Homo sapiens: one gene and its partners. The protein of the gene in region 2 purifies or fractionates together with the protein of the main gene of each other region. This does not show direct contact. Each region holds a gene or a part of one and is shown on either strand. Other genes may lie near its edges.

Region 1 (3,500 bases), on a different chromosome or scaffold from region 2:
TCTCCTTAAAGACTTCTAAGACTTCTAAATTAATACAGTAACATTTTCTCTCTGCTACCCTTGGGAAAGAATCTCTCACTCTAAACAAGTACTCCCCACCATTTTTTTCGCATGTGGATATTGCATTCAGCAAATGTGCACCCAAGATGTACATATTCTTTGAAGACAGATAATGTACCACAAAAACAGACAAATGGGTCATTGCTCAAATATAAATGAGTCTGTCCAGTAGATAATTATTTCTGTAAGTAATGCATTGCTAGATTGCTGGACAGTTTTCCTTGTAATCTAGGGTGTTCATATATAGAGAAAAGAAGGATAGCCTATTCATTTAATCAGTATGTATTGAGAGCTTGATGTAAATGTCAGGGAAGTTCCCTGTTTCAACCCTGAAAGAAGAAAATCAATACTAGATTCAATCTTTCCTTCAAACCTACATTCAAGCTTTAGTTTCTTAGAAGAGCTTAATAATAGACTGAAATTTTAAGCAGCTAACCTGCCACTTGTCAGTATGTCTGGTTTGATGGGGGCTAGAGCACAACCTTTGAGAATGTGTATTTGTTATGCTTTCCCTTTGGTTCTCTGTATAATCCAAAGTTGGGTGCATCCTTAACTGAAGCATCTAGAACTTGAATGTGCATCTGAATCCTCTGGGATCTTGTTACAATGCAGGTTCTAATTTGGGAGGTCCAGGGTGCATTGCTAACATATCCCCAGGACCTTGCTTCAACTCACAAGGTCTGAAACTATTCTTGAAATGGTTACCTTTTAAAAACCAAGATTTTTTCATGAAATAAGTTCCAATTGATCTTAAAAAGAAAACAATGCAAACCCCTCAATGCTTAGCTTTTTTTTTTTTAATTTTAATGTTTGAAAAGTCATCTAAAGCCTCCCAATTCCTTCCCCATGCCACTGAGCACAGTGCCCTGCACCCAACAGATACTTAATACATGCTAATGGCTGACGGCAGTGATGTCTGCATGCAAACCAGATGTAGATGTCATAACACAGCACATGATGTGAAAAACTGCCTGCTTCCGAGAAATGGGGGTTTCCAGAACAATGGAAGTGATTCTTTGCAGAAGGCTACTATTGGGTGGTAGTTTCTTGTTTTCGTTGCGTAGCCTGTTTATTACCACTTTATGTTAAAACATTAGAATAAAAAGAATATTCTCATTTCCCCCAGAAAATTACTGGAAAAGCTGAGAGGGTTCCTGGAAGAGGGGAGAGACAGGGTGTAGGTCTACATAGCATAGCTTTGGCGGATGAGAACACCATAGCCTGTCCTGGCTCAGGGCTTAAACTGCATATTTACAATCTGGCTTTATTTTTATTATTTATTTATTTATTTTTTGAGGTAGGGTCTCGCTCTGTTGCCCCGGCTGGAGTGCAGTGGCACGATCATAGATCACTGCAGCCTCAGACTCCTGAGCTCAAGTGATCTCCCACCTCAGCCTCTTAAGTAGCTGTGACTACAGGCATGTACCACCAAACCCGGCTAGTTTTTAAAAAATTTTTAGTAGAGATAGGGGTCTCACTATGTTGCCCGGGCTAGTCTCAAACTTGTGGGCTTGAGTGATCCTCCTGCCTCAGTCTCCCAAAGTGTTGGGATTACAGGCATATGCCACCATTCCAGTCACAATCTGGCTTTGTAAATGGATTATGCCAAAAGTACACTTTCTTTTTTGGGGAGAAGTTTTATTAATGTCTAGGAGTCAGGGAATAATTATGTAAAAATAGAATTTTGTTGTTTGGGAGAAGGAGTTTTATTAATGTATAAGAGTCATGGAATAAATAATTGCGAGATTTTTAGGGTTAAGAATATGAGTATTAGCACATGTGTACAATAAGTCCTGTAGAGATTAAGCATTTTCAAGATAACAGATGCCTAAATCATGGGTCCATTGCTAAGATGGCTCCCCATCCCCACTTACTGAGTGTGTGCTGATGATTTCTTCAATTGAAATATAAATGACTGGTTTGCTGACTGTCACCAGGTCTGTGTATTTGTCCATATTAAACTTCTCTTCTGGCTCAGGGACATTACATGCTTCTTTGAAATATTTCCTAATAAAGGGGGGAAAAGTCTTAAGACAGACTCAAACATGTGCATTAAACAGTTTCATCAAAATAGCTAGGAAATTTTGAATGATGACATGTACTTTGTTCCCATCTCAAACCTTGAGAGGACGTGTTACAGCTTCTTCCAGGCTGGCTCCTGGCTGTCGGAGCTGCATCCATGTTTCTGGATATTGGACCCAGCTCCTCAAACAGGATTGGAGAGAGTGGCAAGGGCCTCAGGCCCTGTTTGTGACTTAGTGATATAGTGACCTATGCGTAGGTCATCTTAAAAATGTTATTTTAAAAATGGTCCCTGAAACTTAAAAAGTCAAAAATGATAATTCTTGATCTAAGAATCAAGTCTGTGTGAGGAATACAATAGAAAAAAAAGCAATTAGTCAAATTTGCTGCTTTAAACAGCACAGGCTCCTGGGCCTACATCACCCTAATCACCCTTCAGAGCTTCTGTTACCAGTTTGACAAAAATGAGATTAAGTCTACTCTTCTTCGTTGCTGCAAATATTTGCTGGCCGATGGAAAGATTGTTAAGGCTAGACACCCAAATACATAACATGTCCCAGGACTCAGACCCTAAAAAGTCTATTTTAAGCTAAAGCAAGTTTTGACAGAGATCAAGAGAAGTGAGGCATGCTGTGATCACAGTTGAATAGTTCTATGTATTTTTTGCCTAAACAATTCTTGTGCAGGTCGAATATACATTTTATTCTATAAAGTTGTAAATGTTTCATATGCCTGAAATCATTGTCGGCATCTCTCCTACAGGCACCTGGGTCTTATGTACCAGAAATGACCTCTGCTTTCCCAGCCAGAGGCTGGGGGAGGTTAAACAGCAGAGCCCTGTTGTGGGGAGCATGTTCCCATGTAACAGTCGGCTTTCCTATGCTGCTTTGGTTATAATTTTTTGTAGATTTCTGAGAAACACAAAGGATAAATATGAGTGGAAGAAAGGACAAGTTTAGAAGAGGCTCACTTCTTTGGTCTTGTTTCTTTTTAAATAAAGAATAGGTGGGAACATAAATGACTGATAGGAATAACAGCAGTTAAAAGTTCATGAGAAATGTGGGAAATGGATATTACTTTGTGTGTGTGTGTGTGTGTGTGTGTGTGTGTGTGTGTGTGTGTGTGACAGAGTCTTACCCTGTCACCTGGGCTGGAGTACAGTGGCACAAACACGGCTCACTGCAGCCTTGACCTCCAAGGCTCAAGTGATCCTCCCATCTCAGCCTCCTGAGTAGCTGGGACTACAGGTGCTTACCACTATGCCCAGATAATTTTTTAAATTTTTTGTAGAGATGAGGTCTCCCTATGTTGCCCAGCCTGGATATTACTTTGTTAGTCAGTGAGGAGAATGAAAAATTAGCTTGAAAAATCAACACTTTCTGTAGTAGGAGGATTTGGGGCAATTTTCTCACAAAAGA
Region 2 (3,500 bases):
GAAAAATTACTTCAGGTATTTGATTAGGGGTGTGAGATGAACACATCTGCACTGTAGGGAAGTAAATATTTTTAAGGTGCGTATGCTGGATTGGAAGGACTTGAGGCTGGGCAAAAGATGCGATGGATAGAAGGCAGTGATCGCAGGACTGGAAAACACATATCTGGGGTAAAACGCACAGGATTCATTAACTGATTATAGGGCAAGGGGAAAGGGCAGAAGCTGAGGATAACTCAGAGTTTCTGGCTTGGACAATTGGTTTGATATAGACATTAGAAGCTGAAATGCATAATGAGAAGGAAAAGGCACATTTTAAGGACAGAGTGATGATTTTGGTTTTATGTGTGACATGACTGGAGGACATTCAGGTAGAATGTTCGAAGGAATTTTGAAATACAGGTGTGGGTTCAGAAAAAGTGGGCCTAGAATTACAGACACACCAAAGATGGTAATGCCATGGGATTAAATGAGCTCACTCAGGGAAGGCAGAAAGTGAGAGGACACAGCTGAAGCTAGAACTTTGGGGAATGCTAAGTCATAGCAGCCGTCCAAGCACCCAGAGAGCCAAGAGAGCCAGAAGCGGGTAGAGTTCTTTTTGAAATGGGGATGATACCAGAGCTGGTACCCAAGTAAAAGGGAAAATATTTACTACAAATTGCAGCTTCCAATAGACAACCATCATAGAACCTGATCACTAATGGAGTATAGAAAAAACAAAAGGCCAACAGGTACAAAGGCACAAAACAAAGAGAGGCAACTGTTTACCAAAGGTGGGTGAAGAGAGGCGAAGTAAATGCACTCCTTTACTGATACCTTTCCAGGGAAGGTGGGACTGTTTGGAAAGCTGTCAAAGCTGACCTACTGCATGGCTGTTCTAAAACAGTGATTTCAACTCTCTTTTTCACAGACAAGAAAATCCATGTCCACCAAGAGGTGTCCCAGGTCTCAGAGCCAGTTGCTGGCAGGTTTAAGGATATAATTAATTTCCAAACCACTAGGGTTTAATTCAACCATACATCAACACACTGTTTCCCTATACAAACACACAAAAAAGAATACTCACCCCAAAAATATCAATAATGGAATACAATAAAACATGAATGAATTTATCCTTTCATTTGACTTATGGAAATGAATTAAATTTCTTATAGCATACAAACCACCACCTCCTACCTTTCCAGCTAACTTCCACTAGTCTTTGATTCTACTGAGACCTCTAATTCATGGACCCTACCATCTGTTCCCTGTCCCTAATTATCTAGATTTCCTCTTCTCTGCTTACCAGGTTTAATTTCCATGATCAATCATTTTATTAATACAACTCTTTTGTATACAACTCCGTTGTCCCTATTTTTTAATACCCATTGGATAATCTGTAACTCTGGTTATATCCTTATCTCTACTTGTTCTATGCCTTTACTGTGTTAATGAATGAGCCAACCTACTGGCTGGTCTTACTTTAAATTTGTGACCAAAAACTTTAAACGGACCCTTAAGGCTGCCAGACAACCTGAGCGCACTTCCCCAGTCCATTCACTCTCCCTATTTGTTTTAACTATTCATACCTTCTCTATCCTCCAGCCTCTACCATGTCCTCCACCATCCTCACTCTCATTTGGTGATCTCTCTTTCTACTTGGAGAAGACTGCAGCAACCAGAAGAGAACCTCAACAGACTCCCACCATCTCAGTTATACACTTTCCCAAACGGGCCCCACACACCTTACCCTATATCCATGTTCCTATCTAAGGCAATGTCCCTTCTCTTGTGTACTAGTTTCCATACACTATCTCTCCAACTTCATTAATTTTTCTTTCTCTATTGAATCATTCTCATTTGCATGCAGACTTGCTCTTATTTCTCCAATCTTTAAAGAAAGAAAAACTTTCTTGAGCCTGCTTCCTCCATTTCTTCTGCTCCCCTTTGCACAAAAATCCTTGCAGAGTCATCTATACTCACAGTTTCCAATTCTTCCCTCTAATTCTCTCTTATACACATTCTAATCCATTTTATCTATCCTTATGTGCTCTTGTCAACATTCTTGTCAAGATCACCCATGACCTTTAATTGTCAAATTCAATCGGTCTTCTTTTTACTTGACCTTTCAATAGCATTGGACTCAGCTAAACTCTTCCCCTTCAAACTCTTTATTTACTGGCTTCCAGGGTAACACATGTTCCTGGTTTTCCTCCTATCTCCCTGGATGCTCCTTCTTGATCTCCTTTGATGGTTTTCTTCTTCTCCTGAACCTCTTAATGTCAGAATGTCTCAAAATTCAATTCTTCTGCCTCTTCTCTTCTCTATATGCATTCATTCCTTGGAGGTCTCATCCAGTCTTAGGCCTTAAATACCACCCAAGTACTGGCAAATCCTTAATTTATATCTCCAATCAGACATCTACTCTGAACTCTAAGCTTACTCTACATCTCCAATTACATTTAGTATCTCTAAAACGTTATCCTTATCCCCTGACAATCCACCCCCCACCCCTTTCCAAAGTTTCTCTACCTTGAAACCTTCCACACTTCAGCTGATGGCAACTCAAACTTAGTCAAACCAGAAAAGATGCAGTCATTTTTTACTCCTATCTTTCTTACAGATACCATATCCAATCTATCAGGGTACCCTATTGGCTCTAATTTCAAATATATGCAGACTCTGACCACCTTTCTCTTCTTCTAGTGCTACAACTCTGGTTCAAGCCACCATCATGTCTCACCTACGTTATCACAATAACATACTAATTAGGTGTTTTCACCCTGTCCCAGTACAGCAGTGAGACTGATCTTTGTGTAAGATAAGTCACATCACTCTTCTCCCAAAACTCTTCAAATGCTCATTTCATTCAGAATACAAGCCAAAGGATTGACAATGACCTCTAAGGCCCTCCTTTATCTGCACTCCTGGATCCTCAGTGACCTCATCTCCAACCACTTTCCCAATTGTTCACTCCACTTCAGCCATACAGGCCTCCCTGCTGTTTCTCCAGCATGCTAGTTGTACTCTACCTCAGATCTTTGCGCTAGCTATTCCCACTGCCCAGAATGTGTTCTTCTGGATGTCCATATGGCTAACTCCCTCATATCCTTCAGGTCTTTGCTGAATTGTTACTTCCTCAGTGAGGACTTCCCTGATGAGCCTATTTAAAATTGTGATAATTTCTACCCCCAGAATATTTTATCCTTTTTATCCTGTTGTAATTTTTCAAAAGGCACTTATCACCTTGAAACATACTAAATAATTTATGTACTTGTTTATTTCTTTATTGTCTTGTTTGCTCCCACTAGAACTTAAGTTCTTAAAAGGAAAATACTTTTGTCTGTTTTGCTCATTGGTGTACTCCTGACACATAGGAGGTGCTCAATTAACACTTGTTGAATGAATGAATCTATTCCCTACCTAAGTAACCACACTATGCATTAATCATCTTTTTTAAAAAAAATGTTTAAATAAATATAGAAACAGTGTCTCACTACATTGGTCAAGTTGGTCTTGAACTC
Region 3 (3,500 bases), on a different chromosome or scaffold from region 2:
ACCGCACTCGGCTGCGGGGAAGGGGAGCAGAGTCACCCAGGGGCTTCTTGTCCAAAGCCAGAGCCCAGCAGTTTTCGCCAGCGTCCCCCGGCCTACCCTGCTCGCACGGCCCTGCCCGGGCCTCCTCGATCTGTGTCTGCTGGAGGCAGGCGGCTTCCCGTAGCTCGCAGGCACTGCCGTAGGTGACACCGTCGCTGCCACACACGGGGCCGGGCGGGGGGTGCTCACACCGGGGACACACACACTGCCCTGCGGAGCACACAGCCCCAAAAGCACACACGGCATCTCCACAGGTCTCTGCAGGAGACAGAGCCAGGCAGGGGTCGGCAGGCCCAGGCTGAGGGAGGCACAGGACCCTGGCCCGCCCGGCCCCAGGGCCTCACTCACCACAGGGTCCAGCTGAGGCCACGTGCAGGCTGATCTGGTGTGTGCAGGCGTGCACGTGCAGCATGCACTCGCTGGGGTACGTGTGCCCGTCGGAGCCACACACGGGCTGGGCCAAAGCCACGCATTCAGAGGGGCACACGCAGCGCCCGGTCTCGGCCTCGCACAGGGCTCCAAAGCGGCACTGCCCGCAGCGGTCTGGGGAGGAGCTTCCATCACCAGGCGACCAGGAACCTCTCTCTCCCCGACCCCCACCAGACCCCTCACCCGCCACTGACCACAGGGTCCTTTGCGCGCCACCTGGATCTCCCGCCCGAGGGTACAGGCCGTGGCCTCCAGCTCGCACGCGCTGCCGTATGTGACGCCGTCGCTGCCGCACACAGGATCGTAGAGGCTCGAGCACGCCTGCAGGCATTCACACGCTGCCTGCCCGTTCTTCACAGCACACGTCGCCCCAAATGCACACTGCACCCCGAGGCATGGGGACGGGGCCTGGTCTGGGAAGGACACAGGGGCTCAGTGGTCCCACAAGCCCCCCCTCCGCTGCAGGCAAAGCCCCCAGCCCCACGCAGCAGTCCCTCTTCCAGGGAGGGGATGGTGGAGGAAGAGAGAACACAGGAGAAGGGCCAGATGCACAGCAGACACGGCAGAGAAAGGGACAGACACGCGGCAGAGGCGAGCGGAACACACACCCAGGAGTCCCCGGTGGCTGCGGGCGAGGCTGCCCCCAAGCTTGGGGCTTCCTGATTGTCCACAGCAGGCTATGGGAGGGCCAGGCTTCCCCAGCCTGCCCAGGCCACTGACCCCTGACCACCAGCATCCCCAGGACACCCATGCATGTGGGGGGGCTCTCTGTGGGTGGGAGGAGCCTGCACCCCCAGAGTCACACCCAGGGCTGCACGGGGGAGGAGGTGTCTGTCCACTTGCTCTGAGGACCACAAGGCCAGGCAGCAGCAAGCCACCCCCCCTGCCGCACCAGGGGCAGACCTCGGGCTGCGGGCTCCTGGAGGGCAGGCACGGCACCTCATCCTGCCAGCAGGTCAGGCTGGAAGACACAAGAGGCGGAGCCGACAGGGAAGAAGAGACCAAAGAGAAGAGACAGACGCAGAGAGAAAGACCAGAAGATGGGCGAACTGACCAAGACGAACACGACGGGACACGACGGCCACTGCCTCCCCCTGGCCCTTCAAGTCCTGACACTGCCTCCAAAACGGCCGACGGCTGCCCATGTCCCAAGAGTGAGGACCCTGGTGTTGTGTCCAGCCTGCCCACCCCAACAGCCTGTGCTTACAGCGTGGAGACATGCGGACAGGCCAGAGGACTCCCAGGGAGGGCGTGGCTGAGGTCAGGGACCAGGGAGCCTGGACAAGGCCCCGCCTCTGCCTCACCAGCCCCCAGGTATCCAGGTACCCTCCGCACACAGGCTCCACCCTCCCCAGAGCCTTCCCAGAGGGACCGGCCCACTCCCAGGACCCCAAGAGGAACATGATGGATGAAGATGGCATGTGATGTCCAGGCAGGGACTGACGCAGGAGCAGCCCACCCCGCCTGGCCTCCACCCCGGGGCGCTCACCACACGGGCCCTGGTGCTTGCTGGGGATGGCACGCTGCTGCCGGCACTCAGCCTGCTGCCGCCAGCAATCACTGTCATACGTGCGCCCGTCCTGGGCACACACGGGCCTGTAGGCCCCGTCACAGGTGACGCGGTCGCAGGAGCAGCGGGGACGGCCACGGCGGGACAGGCACACGGCATTGAACCGGCAGGGCTCCGGGCACTGGTCTAGGACGCAGGGGTGAGGGAGTCACGGAGAGGCTGGAGCACCCTCCATCCCTGCCCTGGGATGTGCAGGGAGCAGGGGAGCAGGCGGCCCTCCCAGAGGGGAGCCGCCCACCTCGACCCTGGCACTGGCCGCAGCCCTCCCCCGGGGGAGCCGCCCACCTCGACCCTGGCACTGGCCGGAGCCCTCCCCCGGGGGAGCCGCCCACCTCGACCCTGGCACTGGCCGGAGCCCTCCCCCGGGGGAGCCGCTCACCTCGACCCTGGCACTGGCCGGAGCGCACTTTCTGCAGGAGGAGACCCCGGGCGGCCCCCGATCGGCCCATGACACAGTCGTTTTCGTAGGTGACTCCGTCGTCCCCACACACTGGCGCCTGCCGGGCAGGGCAGCTCTCGGGCCGTAGGAGCATCTCAGGGCGCCGCGTGCGCGGGTTCACACGGCAGCTGCGGCTCGGGTCAGGGAGGGCGCCCTGACAGGGGTCTGGGGGTCGAGGGCAGGAGTCAGGACGCTGTCGCCGCGCGCCCACAGAGCTCGAGCCGTGCGCCCGCCGCCGCGCTCACCACAAGGGCCGTCGAACTTCTTGAAGACATTCTCCTGGCGGGCGCAGGCGCGGCGCAGGAGCTGGCACTCGCCGGGGTAGTCGGCGCCGTCGCTGCCGCAGACGGTCCCCTCGGGGGCGCCACGGCAGGTCGCGGGGCACAGGCACGAGGCCGTCAGCCCGTCGGCCGAGCGCGCACAGGTGCTGCCGAAGCTGCAGGTCACGTTGGAGCAGGGGTCCCGCGAGCCTGCGGGCGGGGCTTTGCCGGTCAGACGGGCCGCCCCCGCCCCCGCTCCCGCCCCGCTCCCGCCCCGCTCCGCCCCCCAGGCCCCTCCCAGCCCCGCTCCTCCCCGCCGGGCCCCGCAGGCCCCGCCCCCGCTCCCGCCCCGCTCCGCCCCCCAGGCCCCTCCCAGCCCCGCTCCTCCCCGCCGGGCCCCGCCCCTGCCCCCGCCCCACTGGCCCCGAAGCCCCTCCCAGCCTCGCTCCATCTCATAGGCCCCGCCCCTCCCCGCCCCAGGCACCGGCCCCGCCCCGCTCACCGCACGGCCCGCGGCTGAGCAGGCGGATGCGGCGCTGCTGGCTGCACTGCGCCCGCTGCAGCTCGCATTCGTTGCTGTAGGTGGAGGCGTCCGACCCACACACAGGCGCCACCACGCTGGGGCACGGGCTCTTCTTGCAGACGCAGGACGCCCGGCCCGGCCCCTCCGCGTTGGGCTCGCACACGGCGCCGAAGCCGCACAGCATTCCCCGGCACGCTGGGGCGGGTAGGGGAGAAAGCTCAGGGTGCCGAGACGCCCGTA
Region 4 (3,500 bases), on a different chromosome or scaffold from region 2:
GAAAATAAAAATTTTAGGTGAACAGAGGGTTTTCTGACTTTTCAGCAGTGATCAATGTGGGTGTCAAATAGACTGATTTCCAAAATATACGTAAGGGGAATAAGTAGAACCGGGATGTTAGGAGGCTGCAGAGTATTCTTACATTTAATAGACTTTGTATGCACTCTCATATAATCGAGAAAGTGATGCATTGTAAGAGAGAATATTGCTTCCTGATTTAACTAGGAGCATTAGCGAGAATTTTTTTTTTCTTTTTTTGAGATGGAGTCTCGCTCTGTTGCCCAGGCTGGAGTGCAGTGGTGCAATCTCAGCTCACTGCAAGCTCCGCCTCCCGGGTTCATGCCATTCTTCTGCCTCAGCCTCCCCAGTAGCTGGGACTACAGGCACCTGCCACCACGCCTGGCTAATTTTTTTTGTATTTTTAGTAGAGACGGGGTTTCACCGTGTTAGCCAGGATGTTGTCGATCTCCTGACCTCGTGATCTGCCCACCTCGGCCTCCCAAAGTGCTGGGATTACAGGCGTGAGCCACCGCGTGCGGCCCTTTTTTTTTTTTTTTTTTTTTCTTTTTCTGAGACGAGTCTTGCTGTGTCCAAGGCTGCAGTGCAGTGGCGCGATCTCGGCTCACTGCAACCTCCACCTCCCGGGTTCAAGCGATTCTCCTGCCTCAGCCTTCCAAGCAGCTGGGATTACAGGTGTACGCCGCCACACCCAGCTAATTTTTGTATTTTTAGTAGAGACTGGTTTCACCATGTTGGCCAGGCTGGTCTTAAATTCCTGACCTCGTGATCCGCCAGCCTCAGCCTCCCGAAGTGCTGGGATTACAGGCGTGAGCCACCTCGTCCGGCCAAGAGAATGATTTTTACTATTATTAAAATTATTAAAATTAGTTTAATTTTGGATTCCTATATTGAGTTATGATCATGTTGCAGTTACACGGTCTTCTAAATGCAAAGTAATAGAGTATAAATGTTTAGTAGTAGACTCCTGTCCAAAAGGAGACAAATTAAAGGATGCCAGGCAGAAAGAAGTGGAGTTGTTCGTGCAGATTTCTGCTTATATCCTCTTAAAACATTAACTTTAATCCAAAAGTTTGCAGAAAACTGAAAAATATACAGAGAGCTTTGCAAAAGTTTGCAGAAAACTGAAAAATATACAGAGCGCTTTGTACACCTTTTTTTTTTTTTAACAGATGATGAACGCAAGGATTATATAGTTTGGAAAGAGGGAGGGGAGCCTACAGGAACGTTAGTGAGATGTTTGAGATGACAGAATGGTAGCTTAAAGATTTCCGCCATTCTTCCTGCCTTGTCTTAAGGACAGATCATGAGTCTACTTGGTATGGTTACCTGTACTTTTTCAAAGAAAATTCTCCCTCACAGGAGGTGAAAGTGAGGGAATGCCTTAGAATTAAAATCTCTGCCTTGGGAGAGTTGGTAAATTTTTTTAAAAAGCTGAAAATTTTATGACCCGTAAATTATGTTTATTATGAAAGCTAAGAAAATAGTGAGACATGATTTAATTTTGTTGATGGGTGCACGGGTCAGAATAATTTTATTTCCTGTGTCTTAGAATCACCTTTTGTTATTCCCCAAGGCCCTTGGTATTTTATAAATGTATTGCCAGGCTATTCTCAGGGAGTGTTATATATCTTCCATGAAATGTAATAGAGATTTAAAAGATAAGTTGTATGTCACATATGATTTAGAAGAACAGGTTAAAATAATTTTTATTGATAAATACTAGATGTTATAGAGAAGCAAAGAGTTTGTATATGCAGGTTTATATATCCCTTTTTATGTCCCAGTAGCTGAAATTATTTATGGCTACAAAAATCATCCCCATTTTGAAACAAACTTTGTATTACTTAAGTGGTTTTCTTTTTTCATTGAGCCTCCTTTTCTCAATTACCTTTGTTTGAAAGCAGTAGGCAAAAAATTCATTTTATGCTACCAGCAAAGCATTGGATGTTTGCCCCTCCTTGGGGTTAGGTGAGACAAAGCCACACTCTCCCCTTGCCTGGCTGCCTGTCACCTCCTCCCTGTGTTTTTATTCCTTTCCTACTTACGTGGGGGCTGATTTGAGCGCTATGAATAGCCAGGCCTTTGGGGAATTAGGGGCAGTCAGAAGCTGTTGATAATAAAATTTCTTAAAACTTTTAAGCTAAAATTGAAAAGTAAAGAATAATTACTATGAACATATTTTACTGTATTTCTCCTTTTTTTTAACACGTTTCTTAGGATCAAGAAACCCTTTTTAAGGAAGTAAAAGAATTACTGAAGGAAAAGAGAAATAGACTAATATTTTAATGAATTTTACCACTGATTACAAGATAACTCTCATTGTTCTTTCAACTTTGAAATTCTTACTTCCATCCATTATTAAATCTTACTGTGAATGGTACCCTTAAAACTTCAGAGTTGGAAGGGACTTTAAATGTCATCAAGTCCAAACACCCACTCAGTGCAACAGTCACTTCTGCAGTTGTAGGTTGGAAACATCAGGGGGCTAAGAGGTGGAAATTGGATGAACAAGTGGAGGAAGAGGAGCAGAAATTTTGGATTCTACATTTTCTTTACTAAATTTTAGGATCTTGGGAATGGCTGGAGTAGTAGAAAGAGATTATATAAAAGGAACAGATATACTAGAAGCTGTGAGATTGAAAGGAAAAAGATTGAAGAAATTGGCTCTCTATTGCTTGGCTCTGTAACAGTTAGGGAGAGTCAGTTTGCCCTTTAAATATTTGTTTAAATTTCTTTCCTCCAAGGCGGGGGATAGAACAGATAAGGGGATGCAAATGAGAGTTAGCATAATGGAATTGAATTAAAGGAAACATTCTCTTATGGAGGATGGGAAAATTCCATCCTTGGTGGTGGATATGACTGGTCCTTAGTAGCTATCTGGGAATTTTGTTAGGGTGGCAAATATAGGTAGAATTTATGGTGTCCTGTATAATTTTCTGGATTTCTGATTTTGTGACTTATTTCCTGTCTTGTGAGTAGTGTCATCTGAAGGCTTTGGATTTGTAATTTCTTTTAAGATTTAAAATACTGTAAGGACCCAAGACAGGATGATTTATAAACCATTTTTGATACTGAAGGTCACAGAAAACCAAAGAGCATACGTTGGTAGTTGGCCTTACATCTCAGATCTGTCTGTGTTTTATTTTCAGTGTCAGAACTTTAAGATCAAGTAGAAAAGATACCCTTCATCTCTATTTTTACAGCATTATTGATATATAATTAAAATACAATAAACTGCATATTTATTCATGAAACCATTTCTATAGTCAAGATAATGAATATAGCAGTCACCTTCAAGTTTCCTCCTTCTCTCTTTGTTATCCCTCCCTCTCACCCATCCTCGTCCTCCCATCTCCAGATTACCACTAATTTTCTTTCTGTAACTATAGATTAGTTTGTGTTTTCTAGAATTTTATATAAATGGAATCATACAGTATGAACCCTTTTGCTGGGGCTTCTTTTATTGTGATGTGTGGTCT
Region 5 (3,500 bases), on a different chromosome or scaffold from region 2:
CCCAGGTCAGAAACAGAGCAGGACAAAAAGCTCCGGTGCTGATCAGTAGTGGGACTGCGCCTATGATTAGCCACCTCACTCCAGCCTGGGCAACATGGCGCGACCACATCTTAAAAAAAAAAAAAAAGAAAAAAGGCACAGCTGGGCGTGGTGGCTCACGCCTGTAATCCTAGCAGTTTGGGAGGCTGAGGCAGGCAGACTGCTTGAAGTCAGGAGTTCAGGACCAGCCTGGCTAACATGGCGAAACCCCGTCTCTACTAAAAACACAAATATTAGCCAGGCATGGTGGCAGGCGCCTGTAATCCCAGCTACTCGGGAGGCTGAGGCGGCAGAATCGCTTGAACCTAGGAGGTGGAGGTTGCAGTGAGCCAAGATCGTGCCATTGCACTCCAGCCTGGGCGACAAGAGTGAGACCCCATCTCAAAAAAAAAAAAAAAAGCACACACCTGAAAACATACCTAAAGGGTAAAATGGACGACTCAAAAAGTTCTTTACACAAATTAAGTGTAATATCAAGGGCCCAAGCATAACAAGCTTCAAAGAACAAAGTATTCTGAAGCCTGTGTTTACAGAAATCACTGGGCTAGTTACGGATGATCATCTTGCTTAGAGCAGCACCAAGGACCCTGACTTGGATGATACCCAACAGCGCACGGTATGGATAAAATGCTGTGGGTTGGGCTGGCATTTATGTCTGTTTCCTAATGGCTAGTTTATATCCTGTCCTGTCCCATCCTGAGGGCCACCCGCCCCCTGTGGAATGGCCAATACCTCCGCTCCTAACACCTTCCACTTCCCTCACGTCAGGGCCATCTAGATGACAGACTGGTTCCACAACGTCTCCTTTGGAAAGAGAATGCTTTCTTTGTACCCTGTTAAGAAGCTTCTGGGTTCTGGTAGCATTAGGCGGTTCCTGAGGAGCACAGACTAACTCAGCTGAGGCCAGCATGCGGCACTCCCCCGGGCCCGGCCCCACCCCACCAGGCACGCTGCCCACCTGTGCAGGCCCGACACACTCTGCCGCTTCTTCTGCTTCCTCTGCTCCTCGGCCTCCAGCTGCAGCTGCCGCACCAGCTCCTTGGCCTTGGCTTCTTTCCGCCCCAAGGGGACAATCTATCGGGCAGAAACCCACAAACTCCACTAGGGTCACAGCCACAGAACTCGCCCATCGTGTCGATTACGGCCTTAAGCCTCAATGAGCCCTCCCGACTCCCGCCCTCATTCATCTCTACAGCAGGCAGGGAGCATCCCACGGGACCACGCAGCAAGAAGCTGCATGTGGGCTGCCACTGCAGCGTCCCGGGGAGACCTGACGCCCAAACACACCGATCCTACTGAGGCAGGGCTTAACCTTAAAGCCAGCTCATGCACAACTGTTTCCAGAGGTCTGCCATCCTCAGAAGGCCAAAAGAGGAGAGAAAGGCTGAGCAGCCGGGACCTCGTGCACTCCACAGATTCAACAGCCCAGGACAGCACGACACAGCAACTCACCCTACTGCCAACCCCACGCAAACGGTTTTACTATCGGGACAGAGACCAAAATTTCTGATTAAAAGGTAGTGAGCGAGTGAAGGAAACCATTTTCCCAACGACTGCTCATCCGCCGAGTCCTCTCACAGCTGTGCACCGCTTCGAGTAACCGCAAACGCGGTCTGTTTCATTATTTCATGTCTTTGCAAGAACAGCATCGGATCCTACTCTAAAGAAAATGTTCAGGCCGGGTGCGGTGGCTTACGCCTGTAATCCCAGCACTTTGGGAGGCCAAGTTGGGCGGATCACCTGAGGCCTGGAGTTTGAGACCAGCCTGACCAACATGGAGAAACCTCGTCTCTACTAAAAATACAAAATTAGCTGGGCGTGGTGGCACATGCCTGTAAACTCAGCTATTCGGGAGGCTGAAGCAGGAGAATCGCTTCAACCCAGGAGGCAGAGGCTGCAGTGAGCCGAGATTGTGCCACTGCACTCCAGCCTGGGCAACAATGGAACTCCATCTCCAAAAAAAAAAAAAGTTCGGGCTGCAGTAGCAGCATGGCGTCTTTCGACACCAAGGAGACTCTTCAGCAGACCCTGCAAAGGAGGCTGCAGCACCTTGAGGTCCTGTGGGGGCCGGGCGCAGTACAGCAGGGGCCCTTTGACGGCACGGAGCTCGTGGGTGGCAAGGGTGGCAGCCGTCCTCTTCTCACAGAGATCTTCGTGGAGCTTGGTCTGTAACACAGAAGCAGTGATGAGCAAGGTCTCTTGTGCCCTGAAGCCCAGCGAGGTGTCCACACTTCACCCTTGGCTGGGCTGTGTGCCAGGAAACCCTCCCGGTCCAAGGTCTTCACAACCACGCCACGCCCCTTTCCGAGACAGGGCTCCCCTCCAACTCCTCTCCACCCGGCCAGCCAGGCACTCACTTTGTGGAATCACCATCAGGAAAACTATCTTAACCTATCAATCAGCAGACTTTCTTCCTTCTCTAATTCTGACATAATATTTGAGATTTCAAAGAACCCATCTTGAACTAAAATGTAAATAAAGGCTGAGCTTTAAGTTGTAAAGCCCTGGCTGTGATGCCTGTTCCCTTCCTCCCCAAGCTGCAGGCAGGACTCTCACGACAGTCACTCTCGGCCCGCCATGCTCTGTCGCTGCCACTGCGGGGCGCACGAGACTTTCCCCTGGGCACAGAGGTGCTTTATATTTTAAAAGTTGGTCAGGTGTCACAGAAAAGCAACTGGGAAGTTAGTCTTGCCAAAACCTAAACAATTCACAGAAGAATGTGCTGGCAAGAGTTGATGACTTTAATACTGTCTTACATAAAACAAAATGTGTGATTTACTGCAGAAGTCAGAAAACCCACCAAAATATCAAAAAATCAAGGAACCCTGATTTTCCTTTTTTTTTTTTTTTGAGATGGAGTCTTGCTGTGTCACCCAGGCTGGAATGCGGTGGTGCAATCTTGGCTCACTGCAACCTCCACCTCCCAGGTTCAAGTGATTCTCCTGCCTCGGCCTCCCCAGTAGCTGGGATTAAAGGTGCTCACCACCACGCCTGGCTAATTTTTGTGTTTTCGGTAGAGATGGGGTTTCGTCATGTTGTCCAGGCTGGTCTCAAACTCCTGACCTCAGGTGATGCACCCACCTCGGCCTCCTGAAGTGCTGGGATTACAGGCGTGAGCCACCGCACCAGCTGGAACCCTGATTTTCAACTGCAATAAAGCTATCCAGAAATTAGGATAGGCCAGGTGTGGTGGCTGACACCCGTAATCCCCACACTTTGGGAGGCCAAGGCGGGTGGACTGCTTGAGGTCAGGAGTTCAAGACCAACCTGGCCAACATGGTGAAACCTCATCTCTTTTAAAAATACAAAAAAATTAGCCAGACATGATGGTGAGCACCTGTAATGCCAGCTACTCAGCAGGCTGAGGCAGGAGAATCACTTGAACCCAGGAGGCGGACGCTACAGTGAGATTAGACTGCGCCACCGTACTCCAGCCTGGGAGACAAAGCGAGACTCCTTAA
Region 6 (3,500 bases), on a different chromosome or scaffold from region 2:
TGTCAAGAACTTCCTAAAAACTGCCAATACAGACTTGCAGGAGAATCTGAGAGGAGAGATTCCTACAACCACACAGTGTCAAATACAAAAACAATTTTGGGGTGATTACCAAACAGCAAAATCAAAATTATTATTTCTCTATATTTCAAAAGAAAAGATTTTTTCCTTTGTATTCATTCTTAGTTCTTCTGAAAGGTTTATATTTAAATAACACAATGGCCATAATGCAATCTTTTTCTTAGAATGTACAATCCAAAAGAAAGGAGTATAACCTTTCCTATTCACATTTTAAAAACCACTTTTTATGGAGCCCAAAACAGTATTTGATGGCAAAGGTTTGAAAAAAATGCAGTTGACCAATTAGTAACTACAAAGTGAGAATATAACCTAGCGTAAAAAACTCAAAAGCAAAATGAAACCAGATCCATCAAGACCAGAAAACAAAAGCTCTTTATTCACTGGAAAACCAATGGAGAACTAAAAATGATCCTCTCCCAAAATTTTTTAAGAGTGAAGTTTTCCACTTCACTATTATTTCAACTATATCTCTTAATGAAAAGGGGAGTGTATATGAACAAGAAACAGTATATTCAAAACTTAGATTCTTACTTTTGATTTTCTTCTTCTTCTGATTCTTCATGCTGGTCAAATAATTCCCATTTAGAAGTTGTAACAGCTGAATGAAAGGAAAAGGAGGATGTAATTCCACGAGGTAAACTAGCATTTTTTCAGTAGTACAGTGGAAGCTCAAGCTTTAGAATTGAAAAGTTTATATTACAGAAGTTTTTTTAATCTATGTTTATCAATTCTCTAAATAGTTATTTCTATATGCCAAATCTCTTTCCTCACACCTACAATATAATTCAAATTCATGAAGTGACGAATAATGTCATCCTTATTTCTGTGTTGAATATTAAGATTTATTTCATTAGAACCTACAAATAGCAACAATTAGATTATTAGCACTAGGATACAGGTCTAAGTAAGTGTGAAAGACAGGTCTAAATTGCATCTAATCAGTCTAGCATTATGGGAGGGTCAAAGCTTGGTTTCTATGAAACTGACCTCTATGTAGATTTCTACGTAGGTACAGCTTCCAATCTACATTTGCTACTAAAATGCCTTAACCTGAAAGGTTTTCAGTGATATCTCATTACTCTCAAAGCTTCCAAACTGAAGGACCTAAGAAAATTGTAACAGCAACACCAACCACAATAAAAGCATACATTAGACACAAAATATGACAACATTGAGCATTAAGGTTAAAACGTGTTATAAAACATAAAAGGAAAACATATATACAAGCACACCAATAATTAACGTACAAGTACTTAATTTAAAAAATATTTATTTTACTTTTACTCACCCTGTGCTTCCAATTCAGATTCATCCACAGCTTCCCATTTTGATGGGGCAACTTTAAATATAGGCTCATTCTTTTTTGAGTCTTCAGTTGCATCCACTATTAGGGAAAGATAAGCCATTAACCCTGACTACTAGTGGATGACCCGAAGTATTACATTCATGGGTATTCACCATATTATTAAAAAGCAAAGTAAAATAAGGACACAGATGGACAAATAGTAATACTAAGAACAAGGACTATGACTAAACCAATTCTCTGCATCTGAGGGCAATATTTTTAACAGTATATATATCAATTCAGAAAATACAGGTTAGTAATATATTAAGCAAGTGAAGAAGTTGAGAAGTAAAACAAATCTTTAATATCTTTACCTAATCTCTGAAATATAAAACTGCATACATTATTCAATATTTAAACATATAATTCAAATGTACCAAAGAGCTGTCTACAGTTCCTATTTTCAAAATGATTTTAGGCAGCTAGGAAAACTGAAGTTGTAAGTTAGAAAAACTAATAAAAACTGATAAAACCAGGTACCTAGGATCATGCATAACTGAGCACAAGATTTTGCCTATAATTTCCTGACAAGACAAAAAGAGAAACTTGCTAATATTATAGGAGGCTGATTGTCCCAGCAAAGAAATGTGACCAGAAAAAAATGCTTCTTCTTGGCCTTTTATATACATAGCATACAAATAAATGTATTACTGGGTATATGAATTTTGAAAAAAATCAGAAATAGAAAAGTTAATAACTTGATACGTTCATGAGAAACTATAACCTTTTTCCATATCAGCATGTATGGAAATTAGAGTTTTGGTCACCAAATGTATTAGCTAGATTTAATCAGTTTGAAATCTGAACTTACAAGGCACTCCATCAAGATCATCATCAAGACTTTTTATAGGGACTCCATCAAGATCATCGATGGGAGTAGCATCAATAGGAATTCCATCTACATCTTCCAGAGGTGCACCATCAAGCTCTTCCTCGATGGGGGCACCATCAAGGTCATCTGGAACATCCTATGGAAATGTGTACTATTATAACATTTTCCTTTGCTTGCTGAAGTCACATTGCTTGTAAGATTAATTTGTAATCCAGTACAAGCCAACATAACTGGATACCCACAATCTGAGGTACAATGTAAGAACATATTCTATCATCCAGTTTGCTAAAGAAGCAGTCAGTTGTGCATTTATCTAATATTTACCAAGTGCTCACTGGTGCCAGGTACCTTGTGAGGCAATGATGAGCAAAAACAAGTTTGGTCCCCCTGTTATAGAGCCTGGTAAAGGTTTTTGCTGTTGTTTTGCAGGGGTGGGGGAACCAGGAAATCAGATCATCACAACAATATATACTTATCTGTAACTATGGTAACTGCTACAGCAAAAGGGCGTATCATACTATTAGCATACTAAGTTTCACTTAAAGAGGTCAGAGAAGGCTAAGGTTATGTTTGAGCTGAGATCTGAAGGATCTCAGGTGAAGATAAGTCCCAGAAAGAGGGAAGGACATGTACAAAGTCCAATGGTAGGTGGAAACACACATTTAAGAAACTGAAACAAGGACCACGTGGGTTGCAACAGTAAGGCCAATTAGGAAGATCCTGCAGGAGTGAAAGTGAAAACATAATAGCTTGACTAGCATGGCAGAATTAAACATTAAGGATTCAGTAATTATTTAGGAGGTAAAAAAGAAAAAAAACAACAGAATGGTGATGTATATCTGCTATCATGTGATGCATCTTTTCATGCACATATTTTACTTATATAGCTATCTTTAACAAAATAAAGTCATGCTATACATATTGCTCTATTACTTGCTTATTTTCTACTATTAACAATATATCATAACTCTTATATCATTAAATAAAAAAAACACTCACCAATTTTCACATAAGGACACAAGACAGAGAATTCCTGTTACATGTAATTTTGACTTCTGGGTTCCAGCAATAAAAATCCACTACTTAATGGTAAGCAATAGATATTTTTCACAAAGAAATGTACCTCACATATGTAACACAGAACAACTCCAAGAAACCTCCACCCCAGAAACGAATTTTAAAAACAACCAGACAAATACAGACTGCCTACCTCTGTTTCCTTTTCTTCAATAATATTTACAAGTC
Region 7 (3,500 bases), on a different chromosome or scaffold from region 2:
GGAGAGGGGGGCACAGCAACCTCCCCATACACATGCATTGCTGGTCCCCACCCTCCCCCAGACCAGGACTCCCCGAGGGCCAAACCACTATGTTCTTAGGCAAGAATTTCTCAGCAGTATACTCTGTCTTGATTTCGTCCTTACTTCCCACTTTCCTACATTCACAACTAGAGAGTGTGTGTTTTTAAAAAGAAGAGGCCCCAGAGGAGCTTGCCAGAGCTCCAAACACCACAGTCATCCTCCCTCAGCCCAAATCTCCTCTGCCCTTAGCTGAAAGGCTCAGCACAGCCATCTGCATATTAAAAGGAGTTCAACTTCATGGAATTTTAAGGGTCACCACTCCAACCATGACAAAACTTGTGTCTTACAGTCTAATTGTAACCAACAGAAACACCAAAGACCCCCACATGTGGAGTAATATTTGAACACACCTACATGTGTTTCCTAATAATTCTGGTGATTTGAAGAGACATTTTGCCACAACGCCATTGAAAAGATGAGGGCAATAAGGCAGAAGGGGAAAACATGGCTTGCCCAAAGTAACATCTGCAACAGGAGAGAAACCGCAGGCAGAATCTTTTATCCCTTGACTCCCAGCCCAACACTGAGCTATGACACGGATCTAGCAAGCCATGTTTCCACCAGAGTTTTCACCAGGCCAGAGCAATGTGCAGGGGTAGAAAGTAGAAGCCAAAGAAAAAAAGGTCAGAAACAGTGGAAGGGATATCTTGCAAGGACTAGGCTTTGGTTGTGATAATATATTAACTTACCACAGGCTAGAGAAGTAAAGAGAAGCCCTGGAATGTGAAAAGAAGACCATGTCATCAACTGAAAAGGTCGATGATGTTTTAGTTACCATACCGAGTATCTACTAGGTACAAGGCATGCAGGCGGTACAAAAATGAATAGAAGGCTTACCCCACAACTCTGGAAGTCTGATACGGAAATCAGACTTGTGCGTAAGTAGCAACAAGATAAAAATATTGAAAGATCCTGCAGGACACGGAGGGGTACAGCCAAACTATCCAACACAGTCATAGAATGGGAGACATTACCTTTAGCTCAGAGGTTACAGGAGAGAAAGGAATTAGGTAAAGTGTAATGGAGAAGGTAGCATTTCAGCAAGGCCTTCAAGTTTAAAAAAAAGAAAAAAAGTTCCCTAGAAACTTTTGGTTTCTAGTCGCAGAGTTTGGGGCAGCACACCAACCTTGACAATATCTCTTAAATTGCTCTTCACCAAACTTCATAAGAAAGCACAAGGAAATCTTGGATCTCCAGCCTGTCTTTTTTCACAGCTCACTTTACAGAAAAACTTGGAGGTCCAGGTTAAAGGTGGAATATCAGAAATAAAAGTTAGGCCCAGTCCACATCTCCAAGAATATCCCAGTCTTATTAAAGTGTTCTGGCTGTTACAGGAGAACTGCAAGGTTCAGGAGATAGTTAAGATAAGAGTTCTTTTTATGTCTGTTTGCTGATTCAGAACATCTCCCCTGACCTGAAGGGCTGCCTCTTGTTTTGTATGTGGCTTTCTCTGTAAATGAATTGATAATTCACCCACAAGAAGTAGCAACATCTTCAGAACTGGGCCTCAAGCACTGTTATTCTTAATGGGGAAGCAGTGCGGGGTGGGTAAGGAGAACAGCAATGCAGATAAAGGAAATAAATCTACCCGAAGTTTCCTTTTTACAGGCCAAGGTTGTCGGGATAAGCGGTGAAACATTACCAAGGCCCACACTGCTTCTTGGTCTGAGCTGTGCAACTTTAAACAATGCATAATGTGATCTGTCAGATACAAATCACACCGGGTTCTAAAGTTAACCTTATAAGTTGCTCCATCAAGACCCTAGAAAATCACTGAGAACATTTCTTCAGCATTCTTGGGGTTATTCACAACACTTTCCCATTCGTTTCAAAGTCAAATATGTTTTTTAAAAGTTGTTAGATTAAAACTTTGCTCTGTTCCTTGGGCTTCTGTGAACTCTCCTTCATCTTTCAATCAGGGCAACAAATTAGGATGTGGGTGAGCTGCTACCCTCACTTTAAATAAACTGCCTTGGGAATGGTCCTTGCCCAGAGTCAGACCTGGCAAAGGCTGTGAGGCAGCTCTGTGCACAACAAAAGATAACAACAAACTCGGCAGCAGCTAATTAGTCCCCCATGAACCTCAGACACTGCCTTAATAGGATCCTGGCTCTTAACATTACCACCCTTATAGATACCATGAGTTGCCATCTCAAAAGAGTCTACCAGCGATGCAATTTCATGGCCTCTTCCATGAGGACTGACAGTGATCCCACAAAGGAAAAATTGTTTTAAAAAGGGAATTTACGAGAAAACCTAAGTGTTAGAAACCCTTTAGAGCAAAGCATCCTCTACTCTGAGACTCATGTCCATTAGTAGTTATAAAGGTAATCACAGATGAAAATCACTTTTAAAATTCAGTGGAACCCAAAGGGCTGGGCAAACTGGTCAAAACAAAAGCTAACAAACTGAACAAAAAAAAGTTAGTTTCAAATCATGACACCCTGAAAGGTAATATGTCACGTATATTTACACATATGCCTGTCTCTCCTAGGTTAGGCCCTTTTGCAAAGCAACCTCATTCTGGATGTTGATAAGAATCAACAACAGCCACTTCCTTTTCTGACTGCCAAGATAAGTTTATTTATACTTTAAACATATAAAAAGAAGAGTCTGAAATACATACTTTAAAAACCTGTGGTTAAAATGGCACATTTTTACTGAAGAGTAAAACTCAACCATCATATGCTGAATGAACTAAAGTTCTATCATAGGCACTCATTAATGTCAACTGGCCCTGACTTTCACAGTAGCAACAACAATTCAACAATGAACTCCAAGTTCATTGCAGTTAAAATGGATAATAGCCATTAATGATGTTACTATGCCTTTTAAAAAATCAACAAATGAGTTCATTTAACCTCTCTGAGTTTCAAGCTCCTTACCTACAAAATAGGCATAACAGTAGCTGACTACAACTTCAATTTTGATACGAATCAAATAAAATATGAGATATGAAGACACCTTGTGAGCTACTATATGCTCGCATTATTGCCAGGATCCTTCTAACAGCTTCAATTCCCACTCTGGACTTGAATCCACAATTTGCCAGATTAATCTAAAATATTGCTTTGTTCATGTATTCCCTTGTTCAAAACTTCTGAGACAAGCCTCCAATACAGATTGGATAAAATATTCATGCTTTAACCTGCAAGTCAAGTCTTTCCACAATCTCCGACTTTATCTTCTGAAAATTCTCCCCAACTGGAACTTCTTGCTCCAGGCAACCGGTCAAAACAGGTACATTGGTCTTTCCACGTTCCTTCAGGCCGGGTCTCTGTGATCTCGCCGGGTCTCTGTGATCTCGGGGCTTTCTTCTGATCTGGGATGCTCAGATGCCACCACCCCCACCTCTGCCCTCCCCCTACAGCAACCTTATCCCATCTCAAAGACCTTATCTACCCCATCAGCTCAAGAAA

The links.
Region 1: the proteins of SLC35F4 (region 2) and IQGAP2 purify together in Homo sapiens (affinity purification with mass spectrometry; one large-scale study listed by BioGRID and IntAct). This does not show direct contact.
Region 3: the proteins of SLC35F4 (region 2) and AGRN purify together in Homo sapiens (affinity purification with mass spectrometry; one large-scale study listed by BioGRID and IntAct). This does not show direct contact.
Region 4: the proteins of SLC35F4 (region 2) and DIAPH1 purify together in Homo sapiens (affinity purification with mass spectrometry; one large-scale study listed by BioGRID and IntAct). This does not show direct contact.
Region 5: the proteins of SLC35F4 (region 2) and LRRC47 purify together in Homo sapiens (affinity purification with mass spectrometry; one large-scale study listed by BioGRID and IntAct). This does not show direct contact.
Region 6: the proteins of SLC35F4 (region 2) and U2SURP purify together in Homo sapiens (affinity purification with mass spectrometry; one large-scale study listed by BioGRID and IntAct). This does not show direct contact.
Region 7: the proteins of SLC35F4 (region 2) and SMARCA2 purify together in Homo sapiens (affinity purification with mass spectrometry; one large-scale study listed by BioGRID and IntAct). This does not show direct contact.

Annotation. Positions count from the first base shown.
Region 1 is NC_000005.10:76,675,785-76,679,284, reverse strand, and holds part of IQGAP2 (ras GTPase-activating-like protein IQGAP2), read right to left. Parts: intron 2,068-3,500; coding exon 1,935-2,067; intron 1-1,934. UniProt on the Homo sapiens protein: Binds to activated CDC42 and RAC1 but does not seem to stimulate their GTPase activity. Associates with calmodulin.
Region 2 is NC_000014.9:57,859,593-57,863,092, forward strand, and holds part of SLC35F4 (solute carrier family 35 member F4), read right to left. Parts: intron 1-3,500. UniProt on the Homo sapiens protein: Putative solute transporter.
Region 3 is NC_000001.11:1,040,620-1,044,119, reverse strand, and holds part of AGRN (agrin isoform 2 precursor), read right to left. Parts: intron 3,456-3,500; coding exon 3,240-3,455; intron 2,948-3,239; coding exon 2,723-2,947; intron 2,643-2,722; coding exon 2,418-2,642; intron 2,345-2,417; exon of another isoform or gene 2,324-2,344; intron 2,165-2,323; coding exon 1,958-2,164; intron 1,944-1,957; exon of another isoform or gene 1,372-1,943; intron 882-1,371; coding exon 663-881; intron 583-662; coding exon 388-582; intron 298-387; coding exon 97-297; intron 12-96; coding exon 1-11. UniProt on the Homo sapiens protein: Isoform 1, isoform 4 and isoform 5: neuron-specific (z+) isoforms that contain C-terminal insertions of 8-19 AA are potent activators of AChR clustering.
Region 4 is NC_000005.10:141,612,501-141,616,000, reverse strand, and holds part of DIAPH1 (protein diaphanous homolog 1), read left to right. Parts: intron 1-3,500. UniProt on the Homo sapiens protein: Actin nucleation and elongation factor required for the assembly of F-actin structures, such as actin cables and stress fibers. Binds to the barbed end of the actin filament and slows down actin polymerization and depolymerization.
Region 5 is NC_000001.11:3,782,999-3,786,498, forward strand, and holds part of LRRC47 (leucine-rich repeat-containing protein 47), read right to left. Parts: intron 2,206-3,500; coding exon 2,089-2,205; intron 1,114-2,088; coding exon 998-1,113; intron 1-997.
Region 6 is NC_000003.12:143,036,070-143,039,569, reverse strand, and holds part of U2SURP (U2 snRNP-associated SURP motif-containing protein), read right to left. Parts: coding exon 3,466-3,500; intron 2,392-3,465; coding exon 2,235-2,391; intron 1,463-2,234; coding exon 1,367-1,462; intron 677-1,366; coding exon 610-676; intron 1-609.
Region 7 is NC_000009.12:2,021,847-2,025,346, reverse strand, and holds part of SMARCA2 (SWI/SNF-related matrix-associated actin-dependent regulator of chromatin subfamily A member 2), read right to left. Parts: intron 3,403-3,500; exon of another isoform or gene 3,230-3,402; intron 1-3,229. UniProt on the Homo sapiens protein: ATPase involved in transcriptional activation and repression of select genes by chromatin remodeling (alteration of DNA-nucleosome topology).